Linked DNA regions of Homo sapiens: region 2 is linked to region 1. A link means that fine-mapping ties the variant in region 1 to the expression of a gene that starts in the linked region. Tissue or cell type: whole blood. Region 1 holds a variant in brackets; the other region holds the start of a gene. All regions are shown on one strand. Distances are between the middles of the regions.

Evidence for each region. PIP is the estimated chance that this variant, and not a neighbour inherited with it, causes the effect.
Region 2: SLC2A9 starts here. The variant in region 1 is fine-mapped to the expression of SLC2A9 in whole blood (TOPMed, PIP 0.95).

What each region holds. Positions count from the first base shown.
Region 1 is chr4:9,941,634-9,946,830 of GRCh38, reverse strand. SLC2A9 (solute carrier family 2 member 9) reads left to right here. Exons shown (of 12, transcript NM_020041.3): 6 at 4,786-4,918. Among named protein-coding and RNA genes, the nearest start is that of SLC2A9-AS1, 44 kb to the left of the region's middle. RefSeq lists an enhancer at 1,299-2,498. The variant C/T (reference allele first, on the strand shown) is at 2,360.
Region 2 is chr4:10,019,321-10,024,447 of GRCh38, reverse strand. It overlaps SLC2A9 (solute carrier family 2 member 9), which reads left to right and starts at 2,951. Exons shown (of 12, transcript NM_020041.3): 1 at 2,951-3,168. The coding sequence starts at 3,019. RefSeq lists an enhancer at 2,970-3,469.

The DNA.
Region 1 (5,197 bases):
ATGGGGCAGGGAAATAAAGCCCCAGGGATTAAATTTTAGAGGAATAAGGAGACAAAGATCAAGGTTGTATTTAGATGACATTCTGGACTGTTCTTATGTAACACAAGGTTACATTTGTAACACACTTAGCAGGGAGCTGGGCACGTGGAGCCCACTTGATCAATGTAAGCCATTATTAGAATAAGAGCCTAAATATGAAGAAATATAAAGAAGAGCATTTCATTTAATCCCCCAAATAGCTGTGTAAGGTAGGGCTTGCTCTTCCCCTTTCCAATCCAGCAGCATGGAGCAATGGCCACTTCTGGAGCCCTTTTGCTGTCAGAGGCATAAGTGGCCCAGCCAGCATCAACCCCCTCACCGTGCTCCCTTGTCTGGGGGCCATGAGCATATTGGAACATCCTTTATAAGAACTTGACTTGGGGTAAGAGTAATGATTTCAACTCTACTTAAACATTTTTTGCTGATTCATCATAGTCCAGGATGATATTATTTATGGACTAAAGTAGTCTATAGCTTGGGGGAAATATGACCTGGAAGTCTATTTAAAACATGGAAACCTGCAGATTAAAGAACAAGATAATAGAACAAGATAATTGCAAAGCCCATTCGCCTGACCTGACTGGGAGTTAAAAATCACCTTGGCTGACAAGACTATCCTTTTCTTTCCTCCTGAGTGAAATAGCAGGTGCAAAGACTCTGCCTGTGTTCTCCTAGATGGACGCTCTAGGGCTTTACCAAACCCAGCAGGCTGGACCGACACCACAAAGACTCATCTTTGAGGTTGTCGTTTGGTGGCGCCTCATGGTCTTGTGTCAGGCGAGTAATATGCGGTTTTTTAAAACATGCCTTCCTTTTTGAACAGCACCTGAAAAAGACACTCAGAGGCCACTGTCTGAAAATGGCAAGCGCTGTTTGTGAAAGGGACCAGTGTGTAGGAAAGCCCTTTCCCACGCTGATTTGCTCCTTCAATAGACATGTATTGAACCACTACTGTGTGCTAGCAGGTCTCTGCCTTCAGGCCATGCCCATCTAATGTAAAACACTGAGGCCTCAGCTCTGTGTTGGGACCAAGTGCCCAGGAGCTCCATCAAGGGCCACTGAGGGTCTTAGGCCTGGGTCAGATGGTAGAAGTTCAGACCAAGCTCTCCTGGCCCTTCCCCTGAGTCTGGTGGTCTGATGGCTCCTCCCTGGTCACTAGGTATGTCTTATCAGGCCTCCTGGATTTGAATTCAGACTCTGGGATCCCAGATTTGGCGGCCAGTCATGCCTCTATGACCGAGTTGTGGCCTCAATGAGCTATTGAACCCCTCTGTGCTGCAGTTAATATTTCTGTATAGTGGAGATAATCACAGGCTCTCTGTCTGCGAGCTATTGTGAGGATGAGAAGAGATGAACTATCCAATGTGCTTAGTAATAAAAGCCACTCTTTCCTGTTGAACACCTACAGTGTGTGCAGGCCTGTGCTCAGCACTCCCGACATCCATTCATGGACTAAATCCTCCCAACAGAAATCCTCCCTAGGAATACGTGTTGTCACTGTCCCCATTTTACAGATGAGAACACTGAGGCATAGGCATTTCGATAACTTGCCCACAGCACAGTGAGTGGGGGTAGAGGCAGAATTCAAATCCAGACAGCCTGCAAGAGAGCTGTGCCCATAGCCACTCACTAGGTTGCCCTGATCCTGGCTGCAAGCCCCTGCTCAGTAAGGGTTGCTGATGGCGATTACATCTTTACCACTGTCATTGGGAGAGAAGACGTGCATGTTCATTGTCAGAAATTCTTCCATAAAGCACAGGGCATAGCAGAGCCTTTATTGTGGCCCCACGGCAGGAATGAGTGAGCAGGCTAGGCACTTACTCATTGAGATGACGTGTGCGCAGGTCATCCTAGCTATTTTTATTATTTGGGTGGGCCACATGTATAATATGGGTGGAAACACTTCATTCAACACACACCCTACCCACACACCCAGTCACACTTTTCTTGGTAGAAGGTGAGGGGAATAATCTCTCCTAACTATAACACCTCTCCCTGCAGCCAGCTAATATCTCCAGGAAATCTCTGAACACTTGCTGGAAAAAGCCAGGTTCAGACTCTTCTGCTGGCTAAGCTCAGTCCCTCTGGAGTAAACTCTTATCTGAGCTCCACTCTGGACACTCCCGACCCTCACCTTTTCCGCTGTTCACCCCAGGGATGTGTGCAGAGTGGCCACTGCCATTGTCCTTCCCCAGTTCAGAAATGTTGGCATCCCAATCCGGGGGCTGCCCACCCTGAGGTTTAAAGAATCCACCTTTTCTCCAGAGGTAGAAAGAAGACCATGGTCACCCATGCGACCCCCCTTAAGAAAGAGTCCACA[C/T]GTCCTTGTATTTAAGAGACCAGGGATCAAAGGCTATGCCATAAACTTGATAACAGCCTTTCAGGAATAAGTCATGCAATGTGAAACATACCCACTGACTAAGATTCCAAAAACACTGAATTGTAGATTCAAGGAAATAGAGAGTGTCCATCTCAGCTAGTGCATAGACCCCTCAAAGGCTCCTGTTGTCCTCAAGCCAAGTCCAAGAGCCATGGAAAGGCAGCAAAGCCACCCATGACCTGACCTCTGCTCAAGGCTCCAGCCTCAGCTCCCACATCTCCGGCATCCCCTGACCTTCTGTTTCCACTACAGTTGTTGTTCCCCAATGAGCCTGGGTGGATCATGCCTCTGTGTGGTTATACATGCTGTTCCTATGCTGGGGGTGCCCTTCCACCCAGTGGCAGCTCCAAAAACACCACCCCTGGGAAGTGCTCCCACTGTGACGATACTGTGGGAAAATATTAGGCTTGATTTCCACCTGTGTGGCTCCTGGCTGGGAGGCCTCAGCACAGGAATCGCCTGCCACACCTTTAACATGCAGCAGTATTGCTGGCTGTGTGTGGGGCTGGCGGCTGTGCGGTGGAAGGAGACAGCCATGGGAAGGGCTCACATCACATCCGGCACGTGGTAGGAGCTTCATGGGGTTGGTTCCCTCGTGTTTTCTCAGATTCTGTTTTTACCCTTACTGAGACGGCAGCCAAACCCCGAGAGAAAATAAAATCAACACCACCACACACAGGCCTAGCGAAAATTCCACTTCTATGTATGTTGGGGTTTTTTCTTCCTGGTCTTTCTTTTTGATCAAACTATGACACACATATCATAAAATTCATCCTTTTAAAGTATACAGCTCAGTGGGTTTTGGTATCTTCACGGAGTCGGGCCACCATCGGCCTTCCCTAATTCCAGGGTATTTGCATCACCCTAGATGAAACCCCACACCCATGCGCAGTCACTCCCCACTCCCCTGTCCCTGGCCCTCCTGGGCCCCCGACAGCCCTAGCCTACCCCTCCCAGCCTTCTAGCGAGAGCTCCTCCTGAAACTGGAAAGCTGACATTGGCCTTGCCAGTTCCTCAAAGGGCGATGGAAGGGCTATGCTGGCTGGCGGAACCAGAGGAGTTTTGTGAATAAAAATTGTTATTAGATACAGAAAAGGGAATCAAATCTAAGGCACCCCTTAGATGGAGATGATGATTGGACCAGCTGCTGGCTGTGTGCCCCTGGCAGGCCACTTCCCCACTCACTCTGAGCCCTGGGGCCCTGCTGCTCTCCCTTCATGGGATCCTAGAACTTGCAAAAGTCTCTGTTACCATGGACCTCAGTAGGGAGCGAGTCTTGGGAGAGCAGCAGAGGGAAGCCCTGCCTCCCAGCGGGCAGCTGGGGGAGAGGTGGGGAGGCTGTCCCCAGGCCCTGCCAGTTCTGGTGCCCCAGGATCCTGAGGGTAACTTCCCATGGGCCCCACCTGAAGCCAACAGAACCTCTGCCTATCATGTGAAGTCTTTTCAGGTCTGAGTGTGTCTTATTTTGCCCTTGGCCATCTCCTTGTACCTTCTTGGGAAATAAACGTGTCAAGGATGTGGCATTGAGGACTTGGTTTTTCCTCCTTCTCATGATCAGAACTGCATTGTGAGCAGGATTCTCTTCTTTCAGTGGCACACTGAGAGCCTATTTGTAAACTTGGGTAGGAAGAAAGCAGGTTAGGACGAATACTACCTTGATGGGCATCGTAACGTGTGCTCTGGGCTTCATTTAAGCTGCACTGCAGGGGATGTCACTGCTTGGAGTGCATCACTTGCCTCTTGAATAGTGCGTGTCGTAGGGATCTGTTTGCCTTTCATAGCTGGCTGGAAAGTGAAAGGCCTCCTCTCCCTAAGGGGTAAGCTGTGCCCCACTGGCCCCCTCTTCCTCACTCCCATGGGGTCTGCAAGAGCTCCAGCTGCCCTTCTTGTGTCCTCACTGAGAAGACAGAGATGGTTGAATGTCGTGGGCGTCTAGATATCTAGCGGTGGTGCCCATGTCACCTCCACATGCAGGCTCCATTCTTGGGGCAGCCTGGGAGGCAGCCCTGGTGTTGAAGAGAAGGAGACCCTAAGATCCCCCAGGCTCACCATGGTTCCCCAGGGAGTGGGGTCAAGCAGCCCTTGAGTGGCCTTGGCCAACCAGAGCCGCCTGCTTTTCAGAGCTACCTTGCAGGTCACTATCTCACAGGGGACTCTTGAGGAGTCTCTGGACTCATGCATGGAAAATGCTATATACGTGGGACTGGTGCCCAGCCTGGCTCAGTTCCTTCCCTCAGCCTTTGTTCCTGGGGATCATGCTGGGCAGGAAGACCTTCTGCAGGGTCGAAACCACCTGGTCCAGTGGCCCAGTCCCCTCAACAATGACCAAAGGCCACTGCACTCAGCAGCATCTCCTTCTCCCACAGGAGAGTACCTGGCCATACCTGTTTGGAGTGATTGTGGTCCCTGCCGTTGTCCAGCTGCTGAGCCTTCCCTTTCTCCCGGACAGCCCACGCTACCTGCTCTTGGAGAAGCACAACGAGGCAAGAGCTGTGAAAGGTGAGGGCCCTTCCCTTTCCTGCACAGCTCCAGCCCCTGCATAGATCATCACTGCAAGGCATGCTGGGACCTGGGCCAATGGGCACAGGAAGGGGTGTTGTCATTGTTCCTTTTTGCAGGCACTGGGCTGGGTATCATAGGGTACCTTCTCATTTCATCTTCCCAACAGCCTTGCTGGGGGACAGAGAGGGGACACAGAGTCACCCAGGGAGTCTCCCAGGGAATCTGGAAAAGCCAGAACAGACAAGATAAGACGCAGGTTCCCTCACTTCTGTGCAG
Region 2 (5,127 bases), 78 kb before region 1:
TGTCCTCATTTCCTCTTCCTATAAGGACACCAGGCATACTGGAATACAGCCCCATGCATATGACTTCATTTAACCTTAATTACCTCTTCAAAAACCCTATCTCCAAATACAGTCACATTGTCAGGTACTTGGGGTGAGGACTTCAACATGTGAATCTGAGGGGACACAATCAGCCCATTGAGACGCACACCATCCCTGCCCACAGTGAGCTCCCGTGCAGAGGGGAAGGCACACGTGAGCAGCAGCACACGTGCAGAGGGGAAGGCACACATGGAGCACAGAGGCAGCGAGAGGTTGGGGAGGCTGCTGGGAGGAGGTGGCGAGAGAGTTAAGTGCTGAAGGGTGAGCACAGTTCAGGGCAGTCAGAAGTGAGGGCCTGAGCAAGGTCAGGAGAACCTGAATGAGTAGGAGCTTCATAAAGACAGGCAAGTAATGACTGAATGAAGGAACCAGTGAGTGTCAGAGCAGGCAGAACGTGCCCCAGCCCAGAACATCTGGGGATGTTTGTCTTATGACTTCATCTGTGATAGGAGTCGCTTCCTTAGCAGTTGCCTGCAGTGCAGGGCCGATGGCCCTGTGGAATGGGGAACCAGCCCTCGCTTTGGAGGCAGGCTCCTCCATGCTCCCCCTGAACTTCAGTTGCCCCGAAATGTAGGTCTGATAGTTCCTCTGAGGACTAAACGATATCATGAAGGTGAACACACTTGGGAAAGCCCTGTGCACATGTAACATGAGCTGTGCACATGTAGTAGGAGCTGAAGGTGAGGCAAGTGCTGTGGCTACCAGGAACCCTGGTTAGCTACCATCTGGATCCGGGAGGGACCCATCTCCGCTCTTTTACTTTCTGTCCAGCTGTAGCTGCACATTCATGTCCACTGCCTAATTTCTGGTTCCTTTTGAGTTTTCAAACCCAACAGAGGACTACGAAGCAATTTTTAACGGGATGAGGGGACACCTGATCCAATTTGAGCTTTAGCAAAATCTGGTGAGGTCCCCACTGTTACAGATGAGGAAACAGGGAGGGTATAGAGAGGGGAGTCACAGCAATGGGATGAGGAGGGGTAAATGAGATGATGAAAATGCAGTCCCTATCAGGACAGCATAGGGGCAGAGGGGCCCTCCATGCACAGGGATGCAGCTGTCCCTGCCCCTCCTCTGCCCATCTCCTGTACTTCAGGCCCCAACCATGCTTCACTGACAATTTCACTTCCTCCCACACACTGCAGGCATCTGTGCCTGCAGGCCTTGGCTCCTTGTCCTCTCACCCCGTATCCTTCTCTGTCCGCTCAGAAGCCGCCTCTTCCAGCGGGGTCTCCAAGATCCAGCTGAGATTGATGTGGTGCCTCCTCCACACTGTCCTGGGGAATCCTCCGCCTTTTTAGGTCATGTTATAATTAAGGATTTGCACATCAGAATGCTGCTCTAGGCCCACCACTCAATGAGGAAACCAGGCTGCATAGCTGAAATCCAGTTCAAGAAACAGCCACTTCTCCCGGGGCATGCCTGACTGATTAACACACAGAAGGACGATTGCACTGAATGACTGGCGTGCTCAATACATCCCCAACCTAACTCCTGAGGGTGGTTTTCCTCTTTGGAAGTCTTGATTCCCCACTTGCTTTGAGCAGCCACATTCCCACCACCGTGCATGTCAGGGCCGGACGTTTCCACGTGCGTTTCACATTCCAGGTTCCTGGAATGTCTGCCGTACTCCACACCTTTTATTTTATTGTGTGCTTTTTACTAAACGTACTTTGCTAACTTTTCGATCTCTCTTTTGTGGACTGAGCCCTACCTTGCCTCCTGGACGTTCTGCATTCACCAAGCCTGTCCCTGGCTCTGGCCCAGACTCTGCACTGCTCTCTGCTTCTGGGAGCAAACTGTTCTAGCCAAAATTGAAGGTGCTTCTCTGGCGTCTGAGGCAACATGGCCATGTGATGAACTGATTCCCACAACCTCCTGGTGTGCATGAGGCCCTTGCCTTCTCAGTACTGTCCTTGAGCCAGCCTGGGGCTGGAATACAGGACATGTCCCCTCAGCCAGTGCTGAATGAGCAGGACAGAGTAACGACTAAGAGGCAAATTCTTTTTCTTCCAAACCCACAGCCCTCGCCTTTGTTCTAGGCTACAGGAGAGCCCACACTCATTTACAGCACGCCACTTGGGGCTGGCTGTTTTCTATTTGAGCTTCAGAATAAGTCTGCAGGACAGTCAGAGTGGGGTCAATATTCCATTTTGCAGTGGTAGAAGTTGCAGCTCAGAGAATAAAGTGACTTGCCTGAGGACACACAGTTAAAAAGTGGAGGAGTTGGCCAGACATGGTGGCTTACGCCTCTAATTCCAGCACTTTGGGAGGCTGAGGTGGGCAGATCACCTGAGGTAAGGAGGTCAAGACCAGCCTGGCCAACATGGTGAAACACAGTCTCTACTAAAAATACAAAAATCAGCCAGGCGTGGTGGCACACGCCTATAGTTCCAGCTACTTGGGAGGCTGAGGCAGGAGAATTGCTTGAACCCAGGTGCGGAGGTTGCAGTGAGCAGAGATTGCATCAGTGCACTCCAGCCCGGGCAACAGAGCAAGATTCGGTCAAAAAAAAAAAAAAAAAGTGGAAGAGTCAGGGGCAGAGCTGTATGCAGGCTTCTGAGTCAAAGTCAGCCACCTCTCCATTCTGTTCCAAGCATTAGGGAGGTATCCTAGGTTAATGGCAGTCACCCTGCTCCAGGCTTTGTTACCAGAGAAAAATAAAAAGATGCTAAGAAAAAAAAAAAAAATTCCACCCCCTGGGTGGCAATCCTGGAGAGGACAGATTTCCCTTTTTGGACTGTTTCATTGCTGTAATAACTTAGGAGCAGAGAAAAAAATGTTGCCCCGTTGCCTGTTCAGGCATGATCAAATTGCCACACTTCCTGTCAGGAACTCCCGCCCTCCTTCCAGTGGACTCTGCCTCCTCACTCACGGAAATGCCTTGGCAGAGTCTGGGGTCCCTGGACTGAGCCATCAGCTGGGTCACTGAGACCCATGGCAAGGAAACAAAATAGGAATTCCAAGGAACTGGGCCTAGTTCCCCTCACAGATGACACCAGCCACGCCGGGCCTCCAGGGCCAGGGAGGGCACTGCTGGAGTGTGACCACCTGAGGAGTGGGGTGCCAGGTGGAAGGAGAAGAAAGGTAACTACGGACAGCTTTTCTGCATGGCTGGCGGGCTGTGGGGAAGGCAGGCCTGGGTGGCAGCCGTGTGACAGTGCTCAGCCCCAGCCTGGCAGCGTGTAGCTGGGGGATCTGGGGCTTTGAGGCAGGGAGGCCTCAGTTTGAGTTGCACTTCTCCATCTGTGTGACTTTGGCATGCTCTCTCCAAGCCCCAGCTGACTGGGCCAACAGCGTCTCTGGTAGACTGGGTGTGTACATGGAATGAGGCTATGGTGGCAGGCTGCCCTGCCCCGCACTTGCATGGTGGTGTCCCTCTTCTCACCCTCCCCAGGGCATGGCACGGGCAGCAGCACCGTCGGTCAGTGGGCACCCTCTGCCCGTGCAGTGAGTGGGGAGCGGGTGGAGGGCACAGGCGGGCCACACAGGCAGGGGGCTCCGGGGAGCACAGCTGAGGCAGGAGAAGATGGCCCCCACCTGCCCTTCACCAGCCTCTGGCAGGGGCACTTCACACCAGGTGCTCCCAATCTGATGGGGTGCAGACCAGGGAGGAGTTTGTGTCCTCTAAGGTCATCGGGGCTGGGAGCAAAGAAGGCACAGAGCACAGAAACGATGCCCAGCACAGCCCAGGGGCTCAGAAGAAGTGGTATCTGTGCCGAGACTCAGAGGATAGGTTTAAAGAGAAAGAGTGATAGAGAACAGGCGTTTCATCTGAAATGTGATTCTGTTCCATCAGGGATCCCCATTCAGCTCAAGCTCCTCTCACTGCAGAAAAATATTCTGGTACTACATTTCAATTGGCAGCACCCATCCCCAAGGCTTATAAATGTTCCCTCTTGCCCCCGCATGTGATCAGCAGCCTCTACGGAGCACCTCCTCTGCAGCAGGCTCCTCAACAACATATGTGGCCAGTGCTGCTATTAAGATCCCATTTCACAGGTGGGCAAGCTGAGCCCCAGAAAAGTCAAGTCACTTGCTCAGACTCCTACAGCTGAGGGGACTGGCCCTGGAGGTAAAGCTGATATCACTTGGCTCAAAGCCCCAAAGCTCTATCTCGTGGCTGGTGGCACTAGAGGAGACAAACGAGACTGGCAGAGCAGGTAAGTGGCCATCAAGAGACCCGCATTCCCTTCCAGACGGGATTTGACTGATATGGGTCCCTGAACCATGGATCCATATGTCTTCTTCACTGTTGCACCCCCACAGCTTTGTCAGGGCCTGGCGCCTACAACACACACACACACACACACACACACACACACACTCACAAATATGTCAAATGATGGCAAAGAAGGTGCCTTCCGGAGCACCTGGCCCCTGTCCACTTGGCCTGTATTCCCTGACCAGCTGAGGACAGCCATCCCTCCTGCCCTGGCTCATGCCAGCTTGTCAGCCTTTGCCAGGGATCCAGGTGTTTCTGCCCTATGGCCCTGTACTGGTGGTGGCTGTCCTTAGATGGGGCTGCAGGGCAGGACAACACCAAGGCAGGCGCCCTGTTCTCTGTGCCAAACCTTGCATCTCTACGTCTGCAGGTCCTTGTCCTGAGGCTTGGACCAGCCCCTGTAGTTTGACGCCTCAGACTGGAACAGTATGTGCATGTAAGCGTGTGTGCACATCTGTCTGGCTGTCGGCAGTCTCAGGCCCTTGGACAACGGCACTCAGGTGACGGGTCAGCAGGGGACAGTGCAGTGGTGACTAGAGGGGCACTGCAGCCAGGCCACCTGGACTTCAGTCCCCATCCTAGACAGCACCAGCCACGCTCCCTGCCCCTCTTTCCTCACCTGTAATACAGGACATAACAGCACTGATCTAAGGACTCAGAGACAATGCGCAGAAAAGTGCTTAGAATCACGCCTGGCTGATAGCGCTTGGAGTCTGGCTTTGCTTTTTTCTGTCTGGGTCGGACACTCGCCAACTTCGCTGAAAGGATCGTGTGGAGCTGCCCAGAGCAGCTGCTGAAAACTGCGTTTCAGGAATCCTCAC